Linked DNA regions of Homo sapiens: regions 2, 3 and 4 are each reported to be linked to region 1. The links are microRNA targets in miRTarBase. Many come from high-throughput screens and were not tested one by one. Region 1 holds a microRNA gene; each other region holds the end of a gene's coding sequence.

Region 1 (4,065 bases):
AATTACTAAACTATTTGAGTTATTGCTTAATCCATGATTTTTTGTTTGTTTTATGCAGGGGGATAGTTTCATAGTAAGTTCTGAATTCCCTGTAAGACTGAGTGTATACTTAGAAGAAGAGGATATTACTGAAGAAGCTGCTTTGTCTAAAAAGAGAGCTACAAAAGCCAAAAATACTGGACAGAGAGGCCTGAAAATGTGACAGGATCATGAATGTCAAAGGTGAAGCATATAGAAAAAACGACTTCATAGAAATGAATAAAGATAAATGTGGATATATGTACCAGTCTGGTGGTGAAGAAATTCTGAAACCCAGAACTTTATAACAAGAAAAAAAATTTTTAACCCTGTGAAGAAGTTTGTGAAAGAAACTTGTGAAGTAGTAATAATTAGAAAAAAAACCATTAAAACACCAGAGAAAATACATAGAAAAATTTGAGAAATTGTCATTTGATTTCTGAATAAGAGCTTACAGGTGTCCTGTGAGTATTGAAACAATGAAATGTAGTGATTTTAATTTTGAAAAGAAAATCTTAAAGTAACTTGACACCCAACCATCTTGAAGAGGGGATTTGAAATGCTGTAATTTTATCCCAGCTTTGTTCAGCCATGACAAGTGACCTGTCAGATGCTTAGTATTGTAATAACCTCATTTCCCTTTCCAAATTTAGAGTATCTTTAATACTATTTTTTTTAGACAGAGTCTCGATCTGTCACCCAGGCTGTAGTGCAATGGCCGCAGTCTTGGCTTACTGCAACCTCCATCTCCCGGGTTCAAGCGATTCTGCCTCAGCCTCCTTAGTAGCTGGGATTACAGGCGTTAGCCAGCACACCCAGCTAGTTTTTGTTTTTTTAGTAGAGACAGGCTTTCACCATGGTCTCGAACTCCTGACCTCAGGCGATCCGCCTGCCTTGGCCTCCCAAAATGCTGGGATTATAGGTGTGAGCCATGGCACCTGGCCTAATACTACTTTTAACTACCATTTTCACTTTTTATTAGTTCAAGAAAAGGCATACACATTTATTCAACATGTATACCTGGGGAGAACCAGTCATTACCCCGATGTTCATTATTTTGATCACCACGATAGAGCTGACTACTCTGCTATGTAGTGCATTTTGGGACTGCACTTATGTATGTTTTTGTTTAACGTGGACAAAGACTTACAGATAGGTGCAAAAAATAAATCCTCTTTTGCAACCCAGAACTCATTGTTCAGTATGAGTTTTGATACATATAAGAAGGGATATTATGATACCTGAGACAGTTGATTGATGGGAGTATTGATAGCCATAAAGGTTGGTTCCAGGCCAGGTGCAATGGGTCAAGCCTGCAATCCCCACACCAAGGTGGGAGTATTGCTTGAAACCAGGAGTTCAAGACCAGCCTAGGCAAGAAAGTAAGAAACACATCTCCACAAAAATTTAAAAATTAGCTGGGTACTGGGGCATGTGCCTGTAGTTGGAGTTACTCAGAAAGGGGGGAGGCTGAGGCAGAGTTGGAGGCTGCACTGAGCTTTGATGGCACCACTGTACTCCAGCCTGAGTAACAAAGACAGACCCTGTCTCTTAAGAAAAAAAGGTTGATTCCAGGCCTGTAGAATAGATAAACAGCATGGGATATGAGGGAAATCCTCAGCAGTATTAATTTTGCATTCCAATTTCATGTTGATGATATACACAATGGCTTTTTGTTTTAAAGGCTTTTATCTTGAGAACATGGTGTCTGGAGTTAAAGGTATGTCTCAATTTGAGTTTTCACATCATATTTGTTTATGTGTAGGAAACAGTATGTTGTCAGAGCAAGTTTCATTTTATTCAGGGACATTTCTACCATGCTTTTAATTCCCATTTATACTGATTTCTGAAAAGAAGAATCCTAGATTCACACATTTTATAGTGATGTGTCAGATTCATTTTAGTTGCAAGCATTAGAGGGTCCTGAATTTGTTAGTTTGTAGCAATAATCAGAACTTTGGATTTCCTACTTGAAGCCTACAGCATTATTTTGAATTAATGCACAATCTAAAATGAGGCAGAGGATTTTATGGTTTAATGCAAAATATAGTATAATAAAAGATGATTACACAGGTCATAAGAATTCATAAATTTGAATGATGTAGAGTTTGATTAAAAGTTATATAATGCCAAAGTCGTAACTTACAGGCACATTATATTCCTGTATTTTATAATGGATGACAATTAATTTTGAGCCAAGAATTAAAATTTGCTGAAATCTTCGAATTGGGAAAACAACATCCTCTGTTGCAATACTGAAGTTCATAACAACAGTTAGACTTTAAACTTAAATCTTAAGTTTAAATCTTTTTCCTTTGGTTCATGTAAAGGAGCTACTTGATGTTACTTTTTATTTATCATTCCTCTGGCTCCTAAGCACAACGTGATTGTGAAATTATTGTTTTTGTGATTAACGTAGTAGGAAGTTTCTGCAGTTGGCAATATTGTAAGAGCATATTGCAGTTTCTGCTCATAATTTCTTTCCTATGGAGTGTTAGACTTTGTTATTTATGTGTATAAATACTAGCTGGACACAGTGGTGCCTGTGGTCCCCAGCTACTCTGGAGGCTAAGGCAGGAGAAACACTTGAGCCCAGCGGTTTGAGGCTACAGTGAGATGTGATCCTGCCACATCTCACTGTAGCCTCGAACCCCTGGGCTCAAGTGATTCAGCAAGAATCACACGATTTTTAAAAGACATGGCAGATCCTGTGTCTTTAAAAAAAAATCAAAACCTTGTAAATAGTGGTTGAGGTCTATCCCGATGGGGCTTTTCCTGTAGCCTGCACATCGTTGGAAACGCCTCATAGAGTAACTCTGTGGTTTTACTTTACTCACAGGACTATTGTTAGATCTGTGGGAAGGAATTACAAGACAGTTGCTAAAAGTTTGAAAAAGACGGTTGCTAAACGTTATGAAAAACCAGATAATCTACTTTTTTACCTTAGGTATTGGCATACTCCACACATCTGTACCATTCTTGAGTGATCGCTTAGGTAAGTTTTAATTGGTGACAGTATAATCTTTTGGGAAATAATGATTACAGTTCAGATGATGAATTTAACTGTTCAACTGCTGAATGATAACGGGCATGAACTAAAACTTAATTCTGACAGAGCTGGATATGGCTGTATAATAAACTGGATCTTAAATTTATACTTGGGTTTTAGTTTTAATAACTGGAAATGTATCCTTTCTAAATCTTTAATTGGTACTTTCTATAGGAATGAATGTGATTTGAACTCATTCATGTTGAGAGGTAAGTAAAATATTTAACTTATAATAATCAAGGACTCAAAAGATGAAAAATAGAAATTACACCATCCCAGTATTTCAGGTATAACACAGAATTAGTAAGATACTGGCAAAAATATTACAATGTATATATTTGTATAGAGAAGGAAAATGAAGAGACTGCATGTCTATACCTACCAAACGAAACTACCTGTGTTCTTTGCATCATTATTCAACTGGCAGTTACACATATTTCATCCTAAAGTCACGTAAACCTGTGTGGATATGTTGAATCAATAGGGATATGAATTACATAAAAAGAATTTTGTGTAACTGGCAGTTTGAGCAACAATGAGCTTGACGTTTGTTGTCTGATCTGTTAAGTTACATGTATATATTCCATCTTTAAGTTTTATAGAGAGACTGGGCAAAGATTAGGCAAAGACTAGAGTTGTAGCTTAAAATGTAGTTAATGTAGCTTCCTTATTACAGTGACAATTAGGAAAAAAGCTCAAATTATTGTACTTGTTAAAGGAATTTGAGAGGTTTGTGAAAGCATTTCTCAGCAATATTGCAAATTTGGGAATACGAGTTGTACAGTTCAGTCATAATTGCACTGCATGGTATCTGCACTCAGCAGTTTACACCTGCTAGGGTGTTCAAAGGTCAGTGCTATAGAAATTCAGTATCTGGCATCGTTGGTTTTCTTGGCTTTGTGCTTGTTAAACCTGGTATTTCTACTGATACAGTATTTGTGTAGGTTTCTCAGAGTGTTCAGTTTGATATACTCTAAAATAGTAAGCAATGCTTTTTT
Region 2 (4,065 bases), not on the chromosome of region 1:
AAATATTTGAGAGCACCAAATTACCAGAGGGTAGTCAGTGAGAGGTGGGCTTTCCCAGGTAGGTTATTCCAGTCCCAGTTCTCTGTCTCATGAGAGGGGACAGTTGCTTGTCTCTAAGGTCAGTAAGGGCACAATTTTGGCAAACATTTGCCTATTTGCCCTGTGGTGTTCTGCTCAGATCTCCCTTCAAGAGAACACAGAGTGAACATTCTATTTGGCCGACAGCTTCCACTCTTTAGAATGTTCTGCAGTGATCACAGCAGCATCCCTCTCTACAGGCTGCTCTGAGACAATGACAGGTGGACAGTGCTAGAGCCCAGCCAAGTCGGCCAGACATGGGACTCCTCAGTCATGTAATCTTCATTCTGGGGCTCTGTATCAACTTGGCCAAGATTTTCTGAGTAGCACTGTAATTTTTCTCTTTCTCCCTTTCATACATGTGTGACTGTCATCGTGATCTATAGGTTCTCCCAATCTATACCTGAATTGATATGTACTGACTAATCAGAGCTTGTTTAGGTGTCAGAAATGCCGCAAAAGCAGTATCTACCTCTTGCTCCCACATTCCCAGCTTAATCCAAGAGACCCAGAATAAGGAGAAATCAGACGGCTGTGATTCAAATATGTAAGAAATAGCTTTTTACTCCTCTTCTCATTTAAAAATTTCCAAAGGGTAAATAAACGGAAAAGGACAAAAATACCTCTTGTGCCTAATAAATAGTAAATTTTCTTTTTTTTTTTTCTTTTTTTGAGACGGAGTCTCGCTCTGTCACCCAGGCTGGAGTGCAGTGGTGCGATCTCAGCTCACTGCAACCTCTGCCTCTTGGGTTCACGCCATTCTCCTGCCTCAGTCTCCTGAGTAGCTGGGCTACAGGTGCCCGCCACCATGCCTGGCTATTTTTTATATTTTTAGTAGAGATGGGGTTTCACCGTGTTAGCCAGTGTCTCGATCTCCTGACCTTGTCATTCTCCCATCTCGGCCTCCCAAAGTGCTGGGATTACAGGTGTGAGCCACCATGCCCGGCCAATACATAGTAAATTTTCTATACTGATAAACACTGCTAGAAGAAACTGGAGCTGGAAATTTCAAAGAGGGATGGAAAGTCAGGGTCCAGTTCTGGACATTTCTTAGAAAGGCAGCCACGGCCGGATGCGGTGGCTCATGCCTGTAATCACGCCACCGGCTCATGCGGTGGCTCAAGCACTTTGGGAGGCTGAGGTGGGAGGATCATTTGAGGTCAGGAGTTCCAGACCAGCCTGGTCAACATGATGAACCCCCATCTTTACTAAAAATACAAAAATTAGCCAGGTGTGGTGGTGCATGCTTGTAATCCCAGCTACTCAGGAGGCTGAGGCAGGAGAATTGTTTGAACCCAGGAGCCAGAGGTTGCAGTGAACTGATACTGCGCCACTGCACTCCAGCCCGGGTGACAGAGTGAGATTCCATCACAAAAAAGAAAAAAAAAAAAAAAAAAGGCAGCTGCTAGGCCGAGCACGGTGGCTCACGCTTGTAATCCCAGCACTTTGGGAGGCCAAGGCAGGCGGATCACCTTCGGTCAGGAGTTCAAGACCAGCCTGGCCAACGTGGTGAAATCCTGTCTCTACTAAAAATACAAAAAATTTGCGGGGCGTGGTGGCTCGTACCTGTAATTTCAGCTACTTGGGAAGCCGAGGCAAGAGAATCACTTGAACCTGGCAGGCAGAGGCTGCAGCGAGCCGAGATCATGCTGCCACACTCCAGCCTGGGTGACAGAGCGAGACTTCGTCTCCAAAAAAAAAAAAAAAAAAAAAGGCAGATACTGGGGACAGCAGGACACAGCAAAGGAGCAGCACAGCCCGGATCATGGAGGGAAAACAGAGCAGCCCTGCTGGAAGGAAGCAGTGCTCAGGTTGCGAAGTGAAGAAAAGCTCAGGATGAAGAGACACCAAGACTGGCCAGAGCTAGAAAGTGTCTAGCCCTTGGAAACTTCAATTACCATGGAAATAGCTTCACTCCCACTTTTAGAGGCTATGGGAGATCCTCATCTTTTCAGGAAAAAATAAAAATGAAAAGTCAAAGCAACAGGGCAATCCAAATCCATCCTTTACTTAGAAGCCTTCCTGAGCTGAATGGCTATTTTCTCAATCTCACCTTTGCCCTACCTCGGCTGGAAGCACAGGAAGCAAGAAAGCTGACGTTTCCAAGAATGGGTAAGAACATAATATTTGCAGTATTTATCCATCCTTTTCATGCCTAGATTTTGTCCTTTTCTATGCCCCATGCCAACAAGCTGGCTTCTCTTCCTTTATGGCTCCTCCTTCTTCCTGCCGCATACTCTTGTCACCCTAAGAATTTACCCTAGACAAAAGGATCTAGAGGCAAAAATGCTTTTCTGTGTCTTCTGTAGGGAAAGCGGAAGAAAAGGGAAGGTTGTTGGTCTTTTTTTTTTTTCTTTTTTTTTGAGACAGAGTCTTGCTCTGTCGCCCAGGCATATGCACTGGCGTGACCTTAGCTCACTGCAACCTCTGCCTCCTGGGTTCAGGCAATTCTCCTGCCTCAGCCACCCGAGTGGCTGGGATTACAGGCGCATGCCACCATGGCCGGCTAATTTTTGTATTTTTAGTGGAGATGGGATTTCGCCATATTGTCCAGGCCGGTCTCAAACTCCTGACCTCAGGTGATCCGCCCGCCTCAGCCTCCCAAAGTGCTAGGACAACAGGTTTGAGCCACTGTGCCGGTCTGTTGGTCTCTTTTTACCCTAAAATTGTTAAGTTCTTCTTTCAAGAGCACAGCAGGGGAAGGGCTGGGGAACTTAGACATATCGCCAAGTCAGACTGAGATGAGAACTTCTAATCTTACATGTTTAATACCAAACACAAAGCAAACACATTCATCATCTAGAGTACTATATTCCAACCCTATCTCAAATGCAGGAATGGGCCTCTATCTGGTATCTAGAGGATGATCATAGGAAACAAAATGAGGACAGAGGCATCTGGTATCTTCTAAAAGTGGTACAAAACTCCCGCCTGTCATGTCATAAAGCTCCCCATCTGGTGCTGCGACCCACCTCCAAGAGAAAGCCAAAGGAACAGACCAATAAAAGGGGTCCGGGGTGCTTTCTCTATTTCACTCACTCCTCTTATTTGCTAAGGAGCTCCAATAACCAAAAGAAATGGTTCCTAGAAGAAGAGAACTAAATCTCCAGAGAGCTGCTGGGGCATACCGATAAAAACTGGGAGAAACAAAGACTGACAGCAGAGAAGTCCAATACTGCTGCTGAAGTTTCTCAGCCTAAATCCGTGAAAGAGCCTGGGATTCTACTGCTCTGTCCAGTAAGAGGAGCTTCTGGGTCCTGTATGACCCTTCCAACTCTGACTTGAATGCACCATCTAAAAACGTGTCTATCTCTACCCCTAGGCTTCTTAGCTCTTCAGTCATCCTCATCATCCTCAATCTGGTATCGTTTCTTCTTTTGGATTCCTGGAGCTCCCAACTCTGGTGCTGTGGGAACGATGGGGGTGAGAGAGAGAGAGAATATCTAAATATGTTAAGGGGTAAGGACGTGGTAGAGTTTGTCTTCAGGATTAGAGAAGAAAAAGAAGGTCCCATCAAATTCCCTACCTCTGTTCCTGCCCTCATCTTCTTCCTGTTCCTCGTCGCTGTCCAGCAATTGTCGTTTCTTGGGTGCTGCCTTCAGCGGCTCTTTACCAACAGCGTCTTCCTCTGCAATGACCATAAATGACACAAAATTAGGAACTCGGTCCTCATATTCTCAGAACACCTTTCCTGCCCTCTAGACCAACATGGCTGACACGTTAATACTCAGAAGATGGCTGTCGCACTATTACCCTCTGGGGATGCCAGGCCCGCTTTCTTCTTGTGGGCTAGCAAGAGGGCCCTCAGGGCTTGTGCTCGGTGCTCTTTACAGTGCTCCTCATCAGAGCCTTGCTCTCCAGGGACTTTAGGCTGCAGCTCTGGCTGCAGCTTCTGTTCCTCCTCTGGTTGACTCAAAGAAGCTGCTGCCCTCCGGAGCTGGGTAGGACTCAGCTTGGCTGGAATTCGCCAGAAGGTTTCCTACAGGG
Region 3 (4,065 bases), not on the chromosome of region 1:
TTCCTATGGACCAGGGTTCCTCTTCAAAGAACCATTCACTGAAAACGTGGTGCCGGGAGGAGGAAGGGTCCCAGAATTTCTCTGAACTAAGAACCAAGAGCAGCAGCAGACGGGGCATCTCACACCCAAGCCTCATGTCCCAGCAGCCATTCATCCCAAGCCTATAGGAATCGAGTTCACCCTGAATTCTGCCTTGGAACTGGCCCCTTGCTGCATCTGTCCAGGCCATGCTATGAATTCAGACTCAAACTGATGGTGAATGGAGAAAAATGAGGAGTCGAGCCTAATGGGGCCCTTCCCAGGTATGCAAAAGGCACACCTACACCTTTGAACCAATTGGAAAAGAATGTGGACAAAAGATCACATCCAAGCCGGGTGCGGTGGTGTGCACCTGCCGTTCCAGGGACTCAGGATACAGAAGTGGGTGGATCACTTGAGCCCAGGAGTTCAAGGCTGTAGTCTGTAGTCTGCTATGTGTGTGTCTGTGAATGACCACTGCACTCCAGCCTGGGCAACGCAGTGAGAACTTATCTCAAAAAAAAAAAAAAAAAAAATCACATCCTTTGCTGGAAACATCGCCTTTAAGGGTCCCTGTTGTGAAACACAAGTGCCCATGTAGCTTCCCCACAGATCTTATGATTCCTTTTACTGTTCGACTTGAAACCCACAAGAGTGTGACGTGGGCATGAGGATAGGCATGGGTTTACTGGTTTACTAGATGGGGGCCGCCAGGACCTCCCTGAGAAGCTGAAGCCCCCTCCCACAGTAACCGTCCTCTCCCCTCTGATGACACAGAATGGGCCAGGGCTGCTCATTTTGGCTGAAAATCACAGCTCTGTTCTTTTCTTTTTCTTTTTTCTTTCTTTTTTTTTTTTGAGACAGAGTCTCACTCTGTTGCTCAGGCTGGAGTGCAGTGGCATGATCTCAGCTCACTGCAACTTCCACCTCCTGGGTTCATGCAATTCTCCTGCCTCAGCCTCCCGAATAGCTGGGATTACAGGCATACATACCATGCATGGCTAATTTTTGTATTTTTAGTAGACATGGGGTTTCACCATGTTGGCCAGGCTGGTCTCGAACTTCTGACCCCAAGTGATCCACCTGCCTCAGCCTCCCAAAGTGCTGGGATTACAGGCGTGAGCCACCGCACCTGGCCAAGCTCTGTTCTTTTCAAATCCCAATCCCTGGGAAGGCACAGTGCCCTCTCCAGGTCCACCTGTGAGCAGGGCAAGGCTGGGCCACTCCACCAGCTCCAGGGGGCCGCGGTCCTGTACATGCCATGCAGGCAGCACAGAACGTTCCAGCCCCAGGCTTTTTGTCAGTGTGGCTTTTGAATGTCACTGCATCCCGCAAGAGACACCGTAATGCTGTTTTAATTATTTCTTTCCCCTGCTGGGAAATCACCTCCATCAAAATGGCTATTCTGAACCCATCCCCAGCCTAGCAACAGCCGGAACTGAGAGGGAATATTAAACTGTTTTCTAAAACTTCGGTGTTGGCATTCGATTTCATATCAAAACTTACTCCAAAGCTCTGATCTGCGGCAGGAAGACAAAAAGCTAACAAGATCAGAAAGGCCAGGCTCACTACGGAGAATGCTGAGAGATGCCAAGGAAGGGGGCTGCTTTGCAGCAGGTGCACCCCAGGGGGTCAGCGGGTCATCACCCTGGGAAGGAGCTGGGGGAGGGGGGGGCGCCACAGCGAGGGACTGACTGCGACCAGAGGCCAGCCCAGAAAGCATGGCCGATGGGATCCCCAGTTCTCTGCAGAGCTGGGGTGAGCGAGGGGGTGAACAACCCATAACTGAGTGAGCAGCGACTCCTTTTATAGGATACTCTAAGGGAGATGCTCTCAGGGCTACAGGGAGAGTAACATGAACACTTCATATCCTCCCGGTACAAGGCAAATTATGCCCCCCACAAATCCACATGCTGAAGTCCTAACCCCAGCACCTCTGATGTGATGGTATTTGGAGACAGGGTCTTTATGGAGGTAATCAAGATTAAATGAGGTCATATAAGTGGGCCCTAATCCAATAGGACCGCAGCCCTTCTAAAAAGAGGGGTGCAGGCTGGGCATGTCCGCTCATGCCTATAATCCCAGCACTTTGGGAGGCTGAGGTGGGTGGGTCGCTCAAGCCCAGGGGTTTGAGAACAGCCTGGGCAACATGGTGAAACCCCATCTCTACAAAAAATACAAAAATTAGATGGGCCTAGTGGTGTGCACTTGTGGTCCCCGCTACTTGGGAGGCTGAGGTGGGAGGATCAATTGAGCCTGGGAGATCAAGGCTGCAGTGAGCTGAGATGGCACCACTTTACTCCTGGGTGACACAGTGAGAACTTGTCTCAAAAAAAAAAAAAAAAATAGGCTGGGCACAGTGGCTCACGCCTGTAATCCCAACACTTTGGGAGGCTGAGGCAGGCAGATCATGAGGTCAGGAGATCAAGACCATCCTGGCCAACATGGTGAAACCCCGTCTCTACTAAAAATACAAAAATTAGCCAGGTGTGGTGGCACCTGCCTGTAATGCCAGCTACTTGGGAGGCTGAGGCAGGAGAATCGCTTGAACCTGGGAGGCAGAGGTTGCAGTGAGCTGAGATCACACCACTGCACTCCAGCCTGGTGACAGAGCGAGACTCTGTCTCAAAAAATAAAAACAAAAATAAAAAATAAAATAAAAGAGGCGGTGAGGACACAGACACACAGAGGGGAGACCATGTGAAGACACGGGGAGAAGCCGGCATCTACAAGCCAAGGCGAAAGGCCTGAGGATGTAATTCTCTGATGTCTGAGCCACTCCCCTGTGGCACTTTACTACACAGTGCCAGTGAACCAATGCACCCCCCTCATTTTAAAGTTTCCAAAGATGCATTCATTCCCAAAAAGGGCCTCTGAAGGGGAAAGCTGTGACCCAAGCTGTCTCAAGCAGCACAATTAGAGCCATCTCCAGACCCAGCCCCTCAACCACAGCAAGAAATTAAGAAACGTCCCCAGCAGACAGCTCCTTTCAAGGACTGTGGGAGCTGGGCCATCCTGAGTCTTGGATGTTTGTGCAAAACCTACATTAAAACGAGTGACCAAGAAGTGATAGGAATGTGGGTGGAGGACACCCATGTCACATCTAAGCTTCTGGGACTTTAAAGTTTTTCAAACTGCAAAACCCTTTTATTTTTAATAAAAGGCCTCACTTCCAAGGAGAGCCCAGCCCAGGAGATCCCCGGTGAATCGTCAAGCCTGGGTCCTCGGGGAGCCGGCGTTCCTGCTGAGCTGATGTTGTACTTCTGAAGGCCTGTGATCGCTAACTGCACCATGAGGCAGAATGCAGGGTGCTCTCAACCAGCTGGGGGTTGGGGTTCAGGCTTTTTTTCATCTTTCGGCCAAGGCAGACAACAACGGACTCATCATCCCACGCGACTGAGTGACGCGAGGCTTCAAACGCAAGCACGAGTGTTTAGAATCCTGCATTTTCAAAGGCTCTTGCCCACTGGGAACTACATGGAGAGGAGATTAAGAACAACAACCAAAAGAGGCAGGGGGTGGGGCAGGCGTGAGGTAGGGGTGGGGTGGGGATGACAGTCAACACAGCTTGGACCAGAAGCCCATGGCGCCTGGCTCCCTGGAAAGGCACAGGGCACAGACGGATGCCGCCTTTCTTGCTGGGACACTCCTGCCACCATCCACAGCTCCCCCGTCACTCCACGTTCTTGTACTTGGTGAACAGGTTGTAAAGAACCCTCAGGGTGGATTTGAGGTCCAAGTTAACCACGTCTGCAGAAGGAAACAGAGAAACTTCAGAGGCGTGCCATCCTCCTGTCATTGCGGTAGGTACTCTCAGAAGCCACGTCTCCAGCATGACACCAGCTGCCGCATCCACACACAGCGCTTCCCCTTAAAGACTGGCCACCACCATGTCCAGGACGCTCTGGGCAGTGCCTCCCCAGACACACAGGTTTTGTGAGAGCTCCTGGCGCGGGCTGACACCCTGCGGGGACAGGCACCTGGGGTGACAAGAACAGAGACACTCCCACAGCCCCTCCTGGATCTGCATCAGGACATGTCTAAGAA
Region 4 (4,065 bases), not on the chromosome of region 1:
GGGACTGTCCCGCAACGGTGTGGGACCGGCGCCATCGCTGAGCGAGCTGGATCTGCGGCCGCCATCGCCCATCAACCTGAGCCGCAGCATCGACGCCGCGCTCTTCCGCGAGCACCTAGTGCGAGACAGTGTGTTCCAGCGCTGCGGCCTCCGCGGCCTGGCCTCCCCGCCGCCTGGAGGCGCTCTGCGGCCGCGCCGGGGCAGCCATCCCAAAGCCGAGCTCGACGACGCTGGCTCCTCGCTCCTCCGCGGCCGCTGCAGGTCGCTCAGCGACGTGCGCGTGCGCGGGCCGGTCCCACAGCACGTAGTGGAAGCACCCGACGGGGCAGCCGCTGCGGCTTCTGGCAGCTCCCTCGACAGCTTCTCCAGGGGTTCACTCAAGATCAGTTGGAACCCCTGGCGCCACGGGCTGTCATCAGTGGACAGTCTGCCCCTAGATGAGTTGCCCAGCACGGTACAGCTACTGCCTGCCCCGACCCCAGCCCCTGATTCTACCGCCGCTCGGCAGGGGGACGGCCAGGGAGAGGTCCAGCCGCGCGGCAAGCCTGGGGAATCCCGCAGCGCCTCCAGTGATACCATCGAGCTTTGAAGAGCGGTCCTGACGCAGGGCCAGGACCCTGCCCGATGCCCACATGGCATGGCCTACTGGGACAGTTGAGCCTTTAAAAAATGGGCATCCTGGCCAGGCGCGGTGGCTCACGCCAGGAATCCCAGCACTTTGGGAGGCCGAGGTGGGTGGAACACGAGGTCAGGAGTTCGAGATCAGCCTCCTGGTCTCGAACATAGCGAAACCCTCGTCTCTACTAAAAATACAAAAAAATTAGCCAGGTGGCACACGCCTGTAGTCCCAGCTACTCGGGAGGCTGAGGCGGGAGAATTGCTTGAACAGGGAGGCAGAGGTTGCAGTGAGCCGAGACCACGCCATTGCACTCCAGCCTGGGTGACAAGAGTGAGACTCCGTCTCAAAAAAAAAAAAAAAAAAAAAAAAAAAAAAGGCATCCCCAGGCCTCTCTACCTGACGGCAACCCCCGGGGGACAGCCAGGTTTGAACTCACCCCACCCCCATGCCGTTTTTTGCTTTTAATATTTCTATTTTTTTTTCAGCCGGCATTTTGCACAGAGGCCGTGTCTTATGCGGAATACAGGGTGGGTGTGCATGGATTCGGGCATGAAGAACAGGGAGCAGGTGCCCCAGACTCCCCAACGTGGAGTGATGAGCCTCGCTTGTCTAGATTGTCCTCTTTGTGCCAAAGAAATAAACCCTTAGGACTTGGCTCATGCTTCCCTCTGGCCATGCCAGGATCCTGTACTCATAGGAGGAAGGAGAGACTGGAGGCCCTGCCTCCCAGTCATTCTAAGTCCTGTGTATTGGACGGAGAGCAGGACTCCGAGGAAAGGTTGCTTGAGGCTTGGAGGCTCTGGTCATAATGGCGACCACACTTTTATTGAATATCTGTTGTGTACTGTCCAGGTCTTCACATTTGTCACCTCATTTAATTCTCATGTTAAGCCTGAGTGGAAAGCATTATGAAGCCCATTTGAGGAAAGAGAAGAGTGAAGTTCAGAGGCAAAAGTCATCTGTCCAGGGTCCTTTGCCAAATGACAGCTGGCATGGAACCCTCCTAAGGCTGATTCCTCTATCCTCCTTCTCCTAACAGCACTTCAGGGGCAACCTTCTCCTCTATCTTTTCTCCACTCACCATCAAAGAAGCCCTCAATTTCCCAGGATTCTAGGACATTTCCCTAAGGTGGGGGTGGTGGGACAGGTAGTAAGACTGATGCCTTTTAACTTTCCAAGACCTTTCTTTATTTCCTGAGATGAATAAATAAGTGGCAATGGGGTGTGGGGATGTGGTGAACACAGAACAGGAACTGGCAGCATGCAGCTGGCAGGAGGGAGCTGTGATGGCCCCACCCCTGTGAGGACCACCTAATCCTAAGCAGGGGCCAAAGCTCTAGCAGCCACCATTAAGGAAAAACTTTTGAAATTCACACATTGTGAAGCCTGCCAGTCCCCGCCAGGTGAAGAGCTCATGGTATCCACCTTCAGGGCTACTTTTTACCCCAGGGGCCTTGTCTGCCCGGGCCTGGGTACCTGGGCTGCTCTGTAAGGCAGGTAGGGGTGCTTACCCCACTCTCAAAAATAAACCAAGCTGTCCTGAGTGTCCAGCAGGAGGGCAGCCCAAGCTCTGGGGGCAGCGTGGGTGGGAGGAGGTCCTACAGGTGGTGGCCGCGATTATCTGCCCTTGATGAAGCCCTCCAGCACACGGTCACTGCGCTCTGACAACCAGTAGCCAGTCATGGCCGCCACAGCCCCAATGAAGATGGCGGTGAACACCAAGTCGCCCTTAGCAGCCAGCGTGGCCAGTGCACAGATGATGATGCCAAAGAACATCTGCTGCAGCACCACCAACTCGTCTTCTGTCATCTCTGAGAAGAAGCCTGCTGACTCTGCAGAGGAGCAAGAGATGCAGCCTGGCACTCGTATCCCTGTTCCTGGTAGTTCTTGGAGTCTCCCCAGAACTCCCACACACCTGATCATCATGGCCACCAGGCCTGCCCAGCAAGCCAGGCACACTACATTTACTGCTCAAAACCACCCTGCAAGGGGCAGTTACCATCCCTGTCTCACTAAATGGGAAAGTGAGGCTCAGAGAGGTAAAGGGGTTGGACTTGCCAAGGCCATGTGGTGGACAAGTTGGGGGCAGAGCATTTATTACGTGTATGAGTCTCGTTCCACGGTCAGACTGTCTGGATTGGGATCCCAGCTTTGCGACTTGCTTGCCATATAGCCCTGGGAAAGTAGCTTCATCTCTCTGCATCTTCATTTTTACATATGTAGAGTGGGGATGAGAACCCAACTTCCAGCGTCGGGTTGTTTCAGGGGTTAAATCAGTTAAGATGGGGAATGCACCTAGAACAGCATCTGACACAGTAATTGCTGGGGAAATGGTCCCTGCCATCATCGTTGTGATTACCCTGCATCTCACCACACCCCCGGCCTAGGACAGCTCTCAGCAGGCCAGGGCAAACACTGGTCCCATTGGATAGATGAGGAAACAGGTTAAGGAGGCAGACTGATTTGATGCCAGGTCTGATTCCCTTTGTACCCTGGAAGGTATAAGGCTGCTGAGAGCCAACCTGGAGATCAGATGTAGAGCCCGGTCTCAGTGCAGCCTCCAGGGGGCTGGGTGGCAGTAGGGATGGGGCAGGGCCTGGAGCTGCCACTGCTACCTGGGGAAGGGGCTTGCCTGCCTTCTCTTTGAATGAGGACCTCCCCTCTCCCGCCCCAGGGCTCACCTGGGATCTGCTCCTTCACACAGATGCCTTCCATCTGCTTGTAGCCCTCGGCACAGATGCAGCGATAACCGCCCTCGGTGTTTTCACACTGCTTGTTCTCTCCCGGACACACCTCTGTCTCACACTCATCCACATCTTGAGGGGAGGGAGGGGTCAGAGTCCTGCTAGGGCCCCCCACCCAGCACCCTGACTCCATCTTGTCCATCTCTCAACACTCCCCTCTGCCCTTGCCCAGGCAACATTCCACCCTTCCTTCCCCCACCTGCCCATATTCCAGCCTCTTCACCATTCATGCTGGGTGAGGCACTCCCAGGTGCCTGTGTCCCATCAGCAGGAGACTCACCGAGACACTTGGAGCCCACCTGCTGATAGCCAGGGCTACACTTCTTACAGCGACCTGGCCCTGCCCCCATGCAGCCTAGGCAGGCCTTGGCACAGTCTGGAGAGAGGAGAGAAAGATGAGGGTGAGATGTGCACCTAGGCCCAGGGGAGCCACGCTCCAGAAGCGGAGGCCTGGGGGTGCTCTGAAGCCTGAGAAGGGGAAGGTTTGGAGGGACAGGTGTGGAGCAGCTCTTCCTCCACTCCTCACGTCCCCTCCTCTGCAGAAGTAGACACTGACCTCGGCACTCATAGGAGCCCTCAGTGTTCACGCAGAATTGGTCAGCTCCACAGTTGGCTCCCTCTGTGCCACACTCATCAATGTCTGCAGAGAGGTGAGCAGGGTGAGAATTTCAATCCCTATTTAGTAGGGAAGCTGAAGCCAGA

Evidence for each region. Region 1 holds the annotated microRNA hsa-miR-1304-3p (UCUCACUGUAGCCUCGAACCCC, at 2,651-2,672, shown strand). A microRNA usually pairs through its seed, bases 2 to 8, with sites in the 3' UTR of a target mRNA and lowers its output. Matches are read on the target gene's strand: a 7mer-m8 pairs with bases 2 to 8, a 7mer-A1 pairs with bases 2 to 7 and ends in A, and an 8mer does both.
Region 2: the mRNA of TIMELESS is a reported target of hsa-miR-1304-3p. Seed matches in the 3' UTR shown: 7mer-m8 at 2,493-2,499.
Region 3: miRTarBase lists PARVB as a target of hsa-miR-1304-3p. Seed matches in the 3' UTR shown: 7mer-m8 at 929-935 and 7mer-A1 at 885-891.
Region 4: miRTarBase lists PRRT3 as a target of hsa-miR-1304-3p. Seed matches in the 3' UTR shown: 7mer-m8 at 904-910 and 7mer-A1 at 949-955.

What each region holds. Positions count from the first base shown.
Region 1 is chr11:93,732,298-93,736,362 of GRCh38, reverse strand. MIR1304 (microRNA 1304) reads left to right here and starts at 2,599; the gene lies at 2,599-2,689. It overlaps TAF1D (TATA-box binding protein associated factor, RNA polymerase I subunit D), which reads left to right. Exons shown (of 6, transcript NM_024116.4): 6 at 59-796. The coding sequence ends at 202. SNORA8 (small nucleolar RNA, H/ACA box 8) reads left to right here and starts at 3,864; the gene lies at 3,864-4,002. SNORD5 (small nucleolar RNA, C/D box 5) reads left to right here and starts at 3,063; the gene lies at 3,063-3,135. It also overlaps SNORA18 and SNORA40.
Region 2 is chr12:56,414,303-56,418,367 of GRCh38, forward strand. TIMELESS (timeless circadian regulator) reads right to left here. Exons shown (of 29, transcript NM_003920.5): 27 at 3,832-4,057; 28 at 3,605-3,706; 29 at 2,061-3,484. The coding sequence ends at 3,414. Among named protein-coding and RNA genes, the nearest start is that of TIMELESS, 33 kb to the right of the region's middle.
Region 3 is chr22:44,168,305-44,172,369 of GRCh38, reverse strand. It overlaps PARVB (parvin beta), which reads right to left. Exons shown (of 13, transcript NM_013327.5): 13 at 1-3,768. The coding sequence ends at 3,692. Among named protein-coding and RNA genes, the nearest start is that of PARVG, 11 kb to the left of the region's middle. RefSeq lists an enhancer at 1,752-2,273.
Region 4 is chr3:9,942,751-9,946,815 of GRCh38, reverse strand. It overlaps PRRT3 (proline rich transmembrane protein 3), which reads left to right. Exons shown (of 4, transcript NM_207351.5): 4 at 1-1,274. The coding sequence ends at 589. It overlaps CRELD1 (CRELD disulfide isomerase 1), which reads right to left. Exons shown (of 11, transcript NM_001077415.3): 8 at 3,920-4,003; 9 at 3,644-3,739; 10 at 3,301-3,435; 11 at 1,410-2,451. The coding sequence ends at 2,237. Among named protein-coding and RNA genes, the nearest start is that of PRRT3-AS1, 2.6 kb to the left of the region's middle. RefSeq lists an enhancer at 482-1,144.